2 separate regions of the Homo sapiens genome follow, and region 1 is linked to region 2. Evidence: fine-mapped expression QTL. A gene starts in region 2. The other region holds a variant in brackets. All regions are shown on one strand. Distances are between the middles of the regions. Region 1 holds the start of FLAD1 (flavin adenine dinucleotide synthetase 1). Region 2 holds the start of ZBTB7B (zinc finger and BTB domain containing 7B).

Region 1 (5,497 bases), 22 kb after region 2:
GCCTTGGCCCTTTTCAATGCATTCGCTCTCCACCCCGGACCAAAATCCCGTCTCTTTCTACTTCAGGCTTCTGCACCCTTTCTAGCCCAGAATCCCTTCTTCCCACCAAGCTTCAGATTACTGAGCCCTCTTAGACTCTCACCTGCCTGTTCTGCCCCTTCACCGGCTCTTTCCCTTGTTCCTTTCCTCATGTCCCGGGGCAGCTTCCGTACTTAAAGTCCCGCCTTGCACCTAGCTGACATTGAATGGTGATTTTGGCTGTCGCTTAGACTCTTCCAGGGTCCCATTGGTGTATTCAACTGTCGCTCTCAGGCTTTAGCCAGTGGATGGGAGCAGGGCCGGATTGTTATAGGCGACAACCACGTGGTCACTTCTCGCCCGGAAATACGGGGGCCGGACCTTAGCCCACGGTCGGGGGCGGGACCTCGGGAGTTTAGGGCGGGAAAGGAGCCGTAGTTAAAGGTGCTGTAAGGCCCTCGGGGAGTTTCTGGTGCTGGATTCAAATAATTGTTATGCATGTGTTGCTTTGTTTTGTTTTGTTTAATGGGTCAGTTAGCCATGGTTTAAGCTGTTTTCATTCACCGTGACTCTAACACTAGGCTAAGGGCTTTTACTGGAGTGAGAAAGCATCTTATTTATAGCAGAAGGAAGTTGGAGGGACACCGAGAAAGATTATTACCACTGTCTGTCGGATATGAAGACCCTGGAGTAGGTGAGCTTTTGATGTGTGGAACCTTAATTTATCTCTAGTATAGTAGACAAAACGAATTACTTAAATCTCTTTGACAAGAAAGAGTCCAAAAACCCTCTCTTCCTCCACCTTGCTCCAGATGGTGCTTAGTTCAAATGACCTTTCCCAGTAATTGGTCTTGTAGGTGCAAATGAGGCAGCGAATAGGGAGTGCCTTACATGTTTACTCTGGATCCTCACATCATCCGAGCTTACCCCCATTTCAGTTGCCTTTGTTCTAAAAGTACATCTTAAACTTTTTTCCAACAATAATCTGGGGATCTTTTCATATGCAGATTGATTCAGTAGGTTTGGGTGGGGCCTGAGATCTGCATTTAGCTAGTTCCCATGTGATGGTGATCCCACTGCTCTATGGACTACATTTTGAATGGTAAGGGCCCGAATTCATTCTTTGTTTTTTTGAGACGGAGTCTCCCTCTGTCACCCAGGCTGGAGTGCAGTGGCGCGATCTCGGCTCACTGCAAGCTCCGCCTCCCGGGTTCACGCCATTCTCCTGCCTCAGCCTCCCGAGTAGCTGGGACTACAGGCGCCCGCCACCATGCCCGGCTTTTTTTTAAAAATTTTTTTATTTTCATTTTTTTTTTAGTAGAGACGGGGTTTCACTGTGTTAGCCAGCATGGTCTCGATCTCCTGACCTCGTGATCCGCCCGCCTCGGCCTCCCAAAGTGCTGTGATTACAGGCGTGAGCCACCGCGCCGGGCCGAATTCATTCTTTGTAGGACTGGTAAACCACACCTTGCCAAATTTTACTCTTCAAAACCCTTGGTCGGGCGCAGCACTTTGGGAGTCTGAGGAGGGAGGATTGCTTGAGTTCTCTCAATTGAAAAAAAGAAAAAAAGGCCGGGCGCGGTGACTCACGCCTGTAATCCCAGCACTTTGGGAGGCCGAGGCGGGCGGATCACCTGAGGTCAGGAGCTGGAGACCAGCCTGATCAACATGGAGAAACCCCGTCTCTACTAAAAACACAAAAAATTAGCCGGGCGTGGTGGCGGGAGCCTGTAGTCCCAGCTACTCAGGAGGCTGAGGCAGGAGAATGGCGTGAACCCGGGAGGCGCAGCTTGCAGTGAGCCGAGATTGTGTCACTGCACTCCAGCCTGGGCGACAGAACGAGGCTCCATCAAAAAGAAAAAAAATACCCTGTAAGATACACATCATGCTCATTTTACAGATGAGGAACAGGCTCAGAAAGGTGAAGGGATGCCACACAACCACAAAACACAGTGAATGGTGGACCCAGGTGATCAGGTGTCTAGACCATTCTTTTAAGTAATAAGCCCCCCCTCCCTTTTTTTTTTTTGAACCAGGGTCTCTCTGTTGCCCAGGCTCGAGTGCAGTGGCGCAAGCACCGTTCACTGCAGCCTCGACCTCCTGGGCTCAAGTGATCCTCCCATCTCAGACTCCAGAGTAACTGGGACCACAGGGGCGCCCCACCATGCCTGGCTAATTTTTGTATTTTTAGTAGAGACGGAGTTTGGTCATGTTGCGCAGGCTGGTCTTGAACTCCTGGGCTC[A/C]AGTGATTCCCTGCCTTGGCCTCCCAAAGTATTGGGATTACAGGTGTGAGCCCCCGTACTTGGCCCTCATTTCTTTCAATTATAAAAAGTCAGCTCTTTGAAAAAAAAAAAAAGGGCAAAACAAGAATTCCACTTGCCTAGTAAACCACATGTTCCAATATCTTTATTAGCAATACAGGTGATATTTGATCCCCTCCCAAAACAGAATACCAAGACTGTTCCAGTATTTTCCTAGTGGATTCTCAAGCTTAAGTGTACATCAGAATCAGCTGGAGAGCTTGTTAAAACATTGCTGTGCCCAATCCTGAGTTTAGGATTCAGTAGGTCTAGGTTGTTGCCCAATAATTTGCATTTCTAATGAATTTTCCCGATGTTGATGCCTGCTATTTTAGGAATAAGTGGATGGAAGACAGGAAAAATGGGGGAGATTAATATCCTTACTTAGTACTAGTATTTTTTTTTCTTTTTTTTTTGAGGCGGAGTCTGGCTCTGTCGCCTAGGCTGGAGTGCAGTGGCGCAATCTCGGCTCACTGCAAGCTCCGCCTCCCGAGTTCACGCCATTCTCCTGCCTTAGCCTCCCGAGTAGCTGGGACTACAGGCGCCCACCGCCTTGCCCAGCTAATTTTTTTGTATTTTTAGTAGAGACAGGGTTTCACCATGTTAGCCAGGATGGTCTCGATCTCCTGACCTCATGATCCGCCAGCCTCGGCCTCCCAAAGTGCTGTGATTACAGGCGTGAGCCACGACGCCCGGCCACTTAGTACTACTGTTTTGTTAGACTAGAGGGGAAGTTATTATTCTGTGGAATGTTTTTTTTTTAAATTGAGACACAGCTTCTGTCGCCCAGGCTGAGTGCAGTGGTGTGATCTTGGCTCACTTTCACCTCTGCCTCTCGGGTTCAAGCGATCCTCTCACCTCAGCCTCCTGAGTAGCAGGGATTACAGGCACACACCACGCCCGGCTAATTTATTTTTATTTTTTTGAGACAGAGTTTCACTCTTGTTGCCCAAGCTGAAGTGCAATAGCGTGATCTCAGCTCACTGCAACCTCTGCCTCCCAGGTTCAAGTGATTCTCCTGCCTCAGCCTCCGGAGTAGCTGGGATTACAGGCGTGTGCCACCACGCCCGGCTAATTTTGTTTTAGTAGAGATGGGGTTTCACCATGTTGGCCAGGCTGGTTTCAAACTTCTGACCTCAGGTGATCCACCCACCTCAGCCTCCCAAAGTGCTGGGATTACAGGCATGAGCCACTGCACCCAGCCTAATTTTTGTATTTTTAATAGAGACGGGAGTTTCACCATGTTGGCCAGGCTGGTCTCGAACTCCTGACCTCAAGTGATCTGCCCTCCTTAGCCTCCCAAAATGCTGGGATTACAGGTGTGAGCCACCACGTGTGGCCTGGAATGTTTTCTTAAACAGCTACATTTTGCACCTGTTTTCTCAAAGCTTAGTTCTTTACCTACCTGCATAAGATGCCTGAAATCTTTACCCCCAGTCCACACTCCAGACCAATTAAGAATCCTTAAGAATGACTCAGGCAGGCATCAGTACTTGTAAAGCTCCCCAGGTGATTCCAACGCCCAAGCCAAGTTAAGAACAGCTGAAAACCTTCCCCAACCAAGGGGCACAGTGAATAGGTCATAGATATGCCTATTATTCCTATTAGGAATTGGGACACACAAGCAGCCCCTGACTGACAGCATCCTTTTATCCATGTGTGCCATTCAAATATTGGGACTATGTTAAAGGCAGCACCCCGACTGTAGGAAGCAGTTCATTTGTTTGGATGAGATGAAGTTGTCCCTATATAACCTCTACCTCAGGCTAGTAGTTAGAGTGAAATATATTTCAGTAGATGTTTGACAGCAAGTCTGCTTAAAGTAGATTAAAAACCAGTTATCTCAATGTTAAACCTCATTATCAGCAAAGAGCTGAGCTTCATTATCAAACTGAAGGGCATATAATTAGAACCATGATATTGATGATGCTCACCCTGAGTGAGGGGGAAAAAACCCGTACAATTACAGCACTAGATTATAAAAACTTCCTCTTTAATCAAGGCTTTTAACATGAACAGATTTCTTGAATAAAATGGAAAGTTTCCAGTACACTGAAACATAAATCCGCAAGTCACCACACATACAACACCCGGCAGGAAAAAACAAAAACAGCAAGTTTACATGATCCCTGTAACAGCCATGGTCTCAAACTCAGATGCTTCCTCCATCTGCCAAGTGTGTTCTGGATACAGAGCACATCGTGGCTTCTGGGGTCACACTCAGCTTAGGCTGTGGGTCCACAGAGCACTCATCTGGCTGGGCTATGGTGGTGGTGGCTCTACTCAAGAAGCAAAGCAGTTACCAGCACATTCAAACAGTGTATTGAACATCTTTTAAATATCAAAGTGAGAAACAAGAAGGCAACATAATAATGTTATCAGAAAGATGTTAGGAAGTAAGGACAGCTGTGTAAAGCTTGAGGCTGAAAAGTAGCTTGCCAGCTTCATTTCTTTGGTTTCTTGGGTAGTGGGCGCCGGAACAGCAAGATGTGAGGTTCTGAAAGAGTGAGGGAAATCTAAGAGACAAGCTCACACCATTCTATGTACAACCTATAGTGTATTCCACTACCACCTCCCCAGCTATCACCCACTCAGATCTTTATAACTAAATAAAGACTTAAGCATATGGCCTTAGAAGCAGACCCAGAAGTCTGGACTGTCTGCCAAGTACAGAATTGTTAATATCAGTTCTTTTGCTATGTTTATACAGCCCCAGGGTGTCCCTTATTAGTTTTGCCTGGCAGCTGGGTGTCTGGTGTCTTATCAATAAATATACTTTCCTTTGCTTATTTAGAACACATCCAAGAATGTTTTCGATGGAGAATGAGGCAGGGGCTATGATCAGGCTATATGTGGCCTTAAAAAGAATACCCTCTGATTGAATGAAAGATTACAGGAGGTTTTTCAGTGACAGGTTGTCTCTGAACTTCCCAGATATTTTAGTCTTATTTTTGGTCACTAGTTTTTTTTTAAAAAAATCCCCCACGACTGGAGGGGGAAGGAACCAGTAAACCATTTCCTATCTCCCTATTTGGGTTATACAATCTTATTCTTTCATTCTCTCAGTGTAGCAGTTCTATATGGTTGTTTTTAGCCAGTGCACTGACCTGGTTCATGGATCATATAATGGACCCATCCCTGACTCTGCTGAACGCCAAGATTCCTCCATTCAGATTCAG
Region 2 (5,000 bases):
AACTCTCAGGAAGGTCAGGGAGCCAAGCGGGGCAGAGGCAGGAAGCCCCGCAGCAGGCCCAGAGGCTTCTGTCAGAGGGCAGTGCCCTGCCTGGAGCCCATTCACTACTCATCTTGGGGCCTTGGTCTTGGGCCAGAAGAATTGGGTCTCTCAGCCATTAAGAAGGGGGCAGTACCAGGCCAAACCTTCTCCATCTGAGCAGTCCCCTGGGCAGTGACTTCTGACCCCAAATGCCCAGTCCTAGGCTGTCCCTCAGTCTGATGCCATCCAGGCAGCCATAGGATCAGGGGCTGGTTCTCTCAGCCTTGGCTTGGAATGGGGGGCTGGCACCCTATCTGACCTACTTCCCTTTCCTCCCCACCTGCTTTCATTTGCTTCTCTCCCCCAGCCTTCACTGTCCCCACCCCAGAGCGCTCCGCCCCCCATGCCTGCTGGGCCCCCTCCCCCACCCTTCCCCAGGGTGCCAAGTGCAGGCACACAAAGGGCCTGATGGTGCATTGTTAGCCCAGCCCCCGCTGCCCGCCGCACCCTCCCTGGGCAGGCACTAGGCCAAGGAGGAGCTGGGGGCCCTGGGTGCCAGGGGGCACCATGGGGAAGAAGAAGGGGACAGCACCTGTCTTCCAGACACTGGGGTCTACATCAGCCAGAACTGAGTAGTGATGAGAGTCCCATTAGAGCAAGCCTGTCTCCTTGACACCTGAGCCTAGTGGGCACTGCCTTCTTTCTTCCCCAGAGCCCCATTCTGGTGGTATTAACCCCTTTTTGACCCCTGTGCCAGGGCTGGGGGTGTGTGGTACCCAAGGGAGGGGACAGTGTCTGGGGGTGCCAGCAGGTTGTGTTGTGCCCACAGCAACCATGTAACAGAGGCACGCTGGGGGAGCTGGGGTCCCTGGGGCCAGGGACAGAGGCACTGACAGAGATTTCTCCTTGTTTCATCAGCTGCTCCAGGGGGAGCCCCCTACCCTTCTCCCCAGTTACCACTAAGGAGGAACACTAACTATCATCCAGACATAGTCACACATATGTCCCTCTCTAGCGCAGCACAACACTCCTTATGCCCACTCTCTCCTCCCCAACCTGATGTCCACTCCATGCCAGCTCTCCCAGCAGTGCCAGGCGGGTACAGGGGTGACCAAACCAGTTGGTGTGTGTGGGGCAGCAGGAGGCAACCCCATAATCCTCCAGGCCTCATCCCCACACTCACACATACTCCCTTAGGGACCAGACAGTTCCCATCCTGCTTTAACCCCTCACAGCCCAATCTGGTTCCCCCGTCCCTGATAAGCGGTCTCCCTCCTCCAGGAATAAGTTGGGGGAAGGGGGAATAGCTGCGCTGACTCATTCCCATTCTCGGCTGCAGCTAGGGGTCTCCAAGGCATTCGGGCGGGGGTCAATTCAAGAACACCCTCCACCTGGCCCGGAAGCCTGGACAGCCTGCCGGTCTCCCCCTCTCCCCAGCACCCACTTCCGGTGTCCCAAACTAGGTCAGCAGCGCTCGTTTCCTGTGGGTCAGCTAGCACCGGCGCCTCTGCCCCTCCCCTGCTCCGGACCCAGGCTCCCCGCCCCCCTGCCCCCCAGGGCGCCCCGAGGTCTCACCATGTCTCAGCCGCCCTTTGATACGTGGGGGTTGTGCGGGGCGGGGGGCAGGGGACCCGCCCTCTCTCTAAACACCAGCAGGGCCGGGGCGCCTGGGCAGGCACGTGTCCGGGCACAACCCGCTGCCCACGCCGCCCCCCCACTCCCGCCCCCACCTCGCTCTGGCCGGGACACGTCGCTCTCTTACTTGGGATGGGGTGGGAGGAGGGAGAGAAAGCTGGAAATTGAAAGCAGCGCCCCCCACCCCTTTGAATGGCAGCCTTCTGCCAGGCGCACTCTGTAGGTTCTACAACAACACAGTAGCGACCCCCACTCTGGGCTGGGGCAGGTGCGCCGGCGCCGGTGGGGGGACGGGTAGTAGGTAGGAGAATTCTTCCTAGTCACCCGCCCTCGCTCTTGGGTTCTGTGGTCATGAGCTGGCGTGGAAAAGGTAGCGGCGGGACTGGAGCCTGAAGGAAGGGAGTGGGATTGAGGGGCAGGGAAGAGAGCGGTCGTTCTATGTCGGTTCAGAGGTTGTTGCTGAGCCCCACTACCGCTGGAGAGAGCGCGGCTCTGGAAGCGCAAGAAACCGAATAGTCCAGCCGGTAACTTTCCCCCAAGCCGCGGCTCCTCCTGCGCCCCCCCAACCCCCATGCAACTGGCCTGGGGCCAATCCACCGCGCCAGGGGGCGCGGGGTGGGGGGGGGGTGCGCGTTGTCCTAGTTAGAGTCCGTCAGCGTTTCCATTCCCTCAACTCAGTCCGGTCTGGGGTCTCCCCCTAAAGTCACGAAGGAGACTGGGGGAACGCTCAGCGTCGCCTCACCCCCTCTCCATCCCGAAGCCGTCTGTCTGTCTGATCCCAGGAGAAGTGCAGATAAACTTTCTGGGGACCCTCCGCCTAGGGTTGGGGGGCATCCGCAGTTCCTTCTCTGTCTTTCATCTCAGTTAAAACCAATTCCAGAGACCCGGGGTGTTGGGAAAGCACAGGGAAGGGGAGTGGTGGGAATGTGATCTGCATGCGTGTGTATCTGGGGGTCCCACTTACAGGACGGACGAAGGACACTGCAGTAGTCTCGAGCCTAGTGAACCCCGAGCCAGGAGACAAAAGTGGGGTACACTCACCTCTCAGCCGTCGGGTCCGCTGGCTGGAGCTGCTGAGGCTCACAGTGTGGGAAGAAGCGCGTCCCCCACCAGGCCCGGGGGCTTGGGGCCCTGCTCCGGTCCTGGTCAGAAGGCCGCGGTCAGTTGCTCGCCGCTCGCTGCTGGGGGGCTCCTCCTCCGCCGCCCTCTGCCTCCTCCTGCCGCCCGCCCCCCCTCGGCCGCCAAGAGCCGTACATTCACCTGGCTCCCACCCGCCCCCCCCTCAGGGCCCGCCTCACCTGTCCTGCTGTCTCACCTGTCCTCCAGCTTGCTTTCCCCCCATCCCTCCCCTCCCTCCCCCCGCCCCTGCCACCCCCCAAACTCCCCCCCCCCAACACTTAGAAACACCCTCTGTCACTTCCTGGTTTTTCACCCGCCCCCCCAGGCCCCCTCCCTCCGCCCAATAAGGACATAAACTTCAACCCCTTCGTCCAGCCAGTCCCTGCAGAGCGCAGATGGGTCCCTCCCTCCTTTTTTGCCCCCTTCTCCAAACTCTTACTTAGCTCTCCTAGCCTTTCCCACCCTCCTCCTTTCCCTCCTTCTTTCCTTCTCTCTGTCTCCCTTCACCTGCCGCGGTCCCTCTCTCCCCCCCCTTTCTCCTGCCCCTATCTCTCCCAGTCCACCTTAACTCAAACTCCGCCCCCGGCCCCCATCCAGCCCTTTGCTGCTGCTCTGCCCGCCCCCTGCACGCCACCGCCCTGTCCGCTCATTGGCCTGAATACCCGCTCATCTCCAGTAGGTCTCGCCTTGCGTTCGTCCAGGGAGGGGGCGGAGCCGAGGGGCTGGCCTGGAACCTGGAGAGGAGGGGGGAGGGGGCAGTGTCCGCAGCGGCCAGGGAATCGAGCACCCCCTACAGGGGCTCCCTCTCCTTCAAGAGGGGCTTCTGTAGGGTCAGGACCTCAGGAGGGAAGGGTATGAGAGGTTAGGGATAGGCTGGGTGGGGGTGAATTGGGGACTTAGGGTCTTGAGGGAGGGGGTCCCGTGAGGGGCTGTAATCAGGTCAGGGACCTAGAAGGGAGGGGGAGGGGGAGCCACCAGGCCTTCGGCTCCGGCCCCTACGCCCCACCCCCTCTCGGAGGGAGCCGGGGAGTTGAGCCTGCGGGCGCCCTGCGTCCCTCCCCACGCGTGACGGTGCCCCGCGGGGAGGGAAGGGCGCCCCAGGCAAGCAGCCTCTGTGCTGTCGCCAGTGCCCGCTGCGGCCTTGGCATTGTCGGAGGGGAGGGGCCCAGTCTGCGAAGGGGGAGGGGGCGCGCCGACGCTTTTGCTCCCCACCTCCATCCCGCGGGTTCCCTAAGTGGAGAAACTGAGTCTCCACCGAGGAGGGATAGCTTGACATGAATTCGCTGAGAGACCCAGGTGGCGAGGGGTGCCTGGATGTTTTGGGATGTGTGGTATGTGTAGGTTTTGGGGAGGACCGGGATAAATACTTAGGAGTCCCCCAACTGAGAAAGGTAGCGGGTGAAGGATGTTTCTGACTGAGCCTGCGGAGCTGCGTACCCCAAAGGGCCCCTCCCACTAGTGTCAAATGGAATCAAATCCGGCTACCTAGGGCCAGGTTTGGCTCCCCTGCGACAAGCCAGGCCGAACCGGGTCGGACTCGCTTTCCCCTCCCAACCCCCCTCCGCAGGGGGCCTCCCTCCCTTTCCAGCAGGTGGCTTCTCGGGACACCAGCTCAACCTGTTGGACCACAATGGGCGGCGCCAGGGGGGCCCTGGCCCTCACCCGGGCTGACCCGGGATCCCCGCGCACGAGGGGCGGAGTCCAGGTCCCTCCCTCCCTCTTTCTCCCTCTCTCCCTCTCCGCGCCGGGCCGTGACTCAGCCTCGGGGCCGCTGCCCTGCGCCCCAGCCAGGGGCGGAAAGTGTGAGGCGCCCCTGAGGGCTCAGGCCAAACCAAACAGCCCCCCACCCCAGACATTATCTCACTGGAGAATTAGGGGGGCTATAGGAAGGAGGAGGTAGCGGCAGGCATGGGGCGCTCTGGCTCGAGTAATCCGCTCCGGGTTTTCCTATCGTCCCTGACCCCCTTGGGTCGCGAGGCTGATCACTGCTCCGGGTTTTCTTCTCAGCCCCGCCGGACAGATCCTGGTCCGGAGGGGCCCGGAGCCGTCCAGGCCGGGGTTTTCCCCTTCCTACTCCAGCCGTCTGGGTCGTGCAGGCCTGGTGAAGGGCTGTGCTAGGGGCTAGGCGGCAGTGCCACAAGTGAAATGGAGAGGGGGCTGCTTTGGGGAGGAAGGAGGATAGCCAAGGAAAGGGGGCGGGGGGCAGGGGGCGGGGGGCGGGGGGG

Evidence for each region. PIP is the estimated chance that this variant, and not a neighbour inherited with it, causes the effect.
Region 1: its variant is the best candidate, but not a certain one, in a credible set for the expression of ZBTB7B in whole blood (TOPMed, PIP 0.83).

Annotation. Positions count from the first base shown.
Region 1 is chr1:154,978,043-154,983,539 of GRCh38, reverse strand. CKS1B (CDC28 protein kinase regulatory subunit 1B) reads right to left here. Exons shown (of 3, transcript NM_001826.3): 2 at 5,426-5,497; 3 at 4,289-4,815. The coding sequence ends at 4,763. It overlaps FLAD1 (flavin adenine dinucleotide synthetase 1), which reads right to left and starts at 196. Exons shown (of 7, transcript NM_025207.5): 1 at 1-196. RefSeq lists a silencer at 284-463 and enhancers at 346-943, 1,544-2,141. The variant A/C (reference allele first, on the strand shown) is at 2,262.
Region 2 is chr1:155,000,641-155,005,640 of GRCh38, reverse strand. ZBTB7B (zinc finger and BTB domain containing 7B) reads right to left here and starts at 2,839. Exons shown (of 3, transcript NM_001256455.2): 1 at 2,698-2,839. RefSeq lists silencers at 361-410, 471-520, 1,571-1,690, 3,401-3,590, 3,701-3,940 and 2 more and an enhancer at 195-867.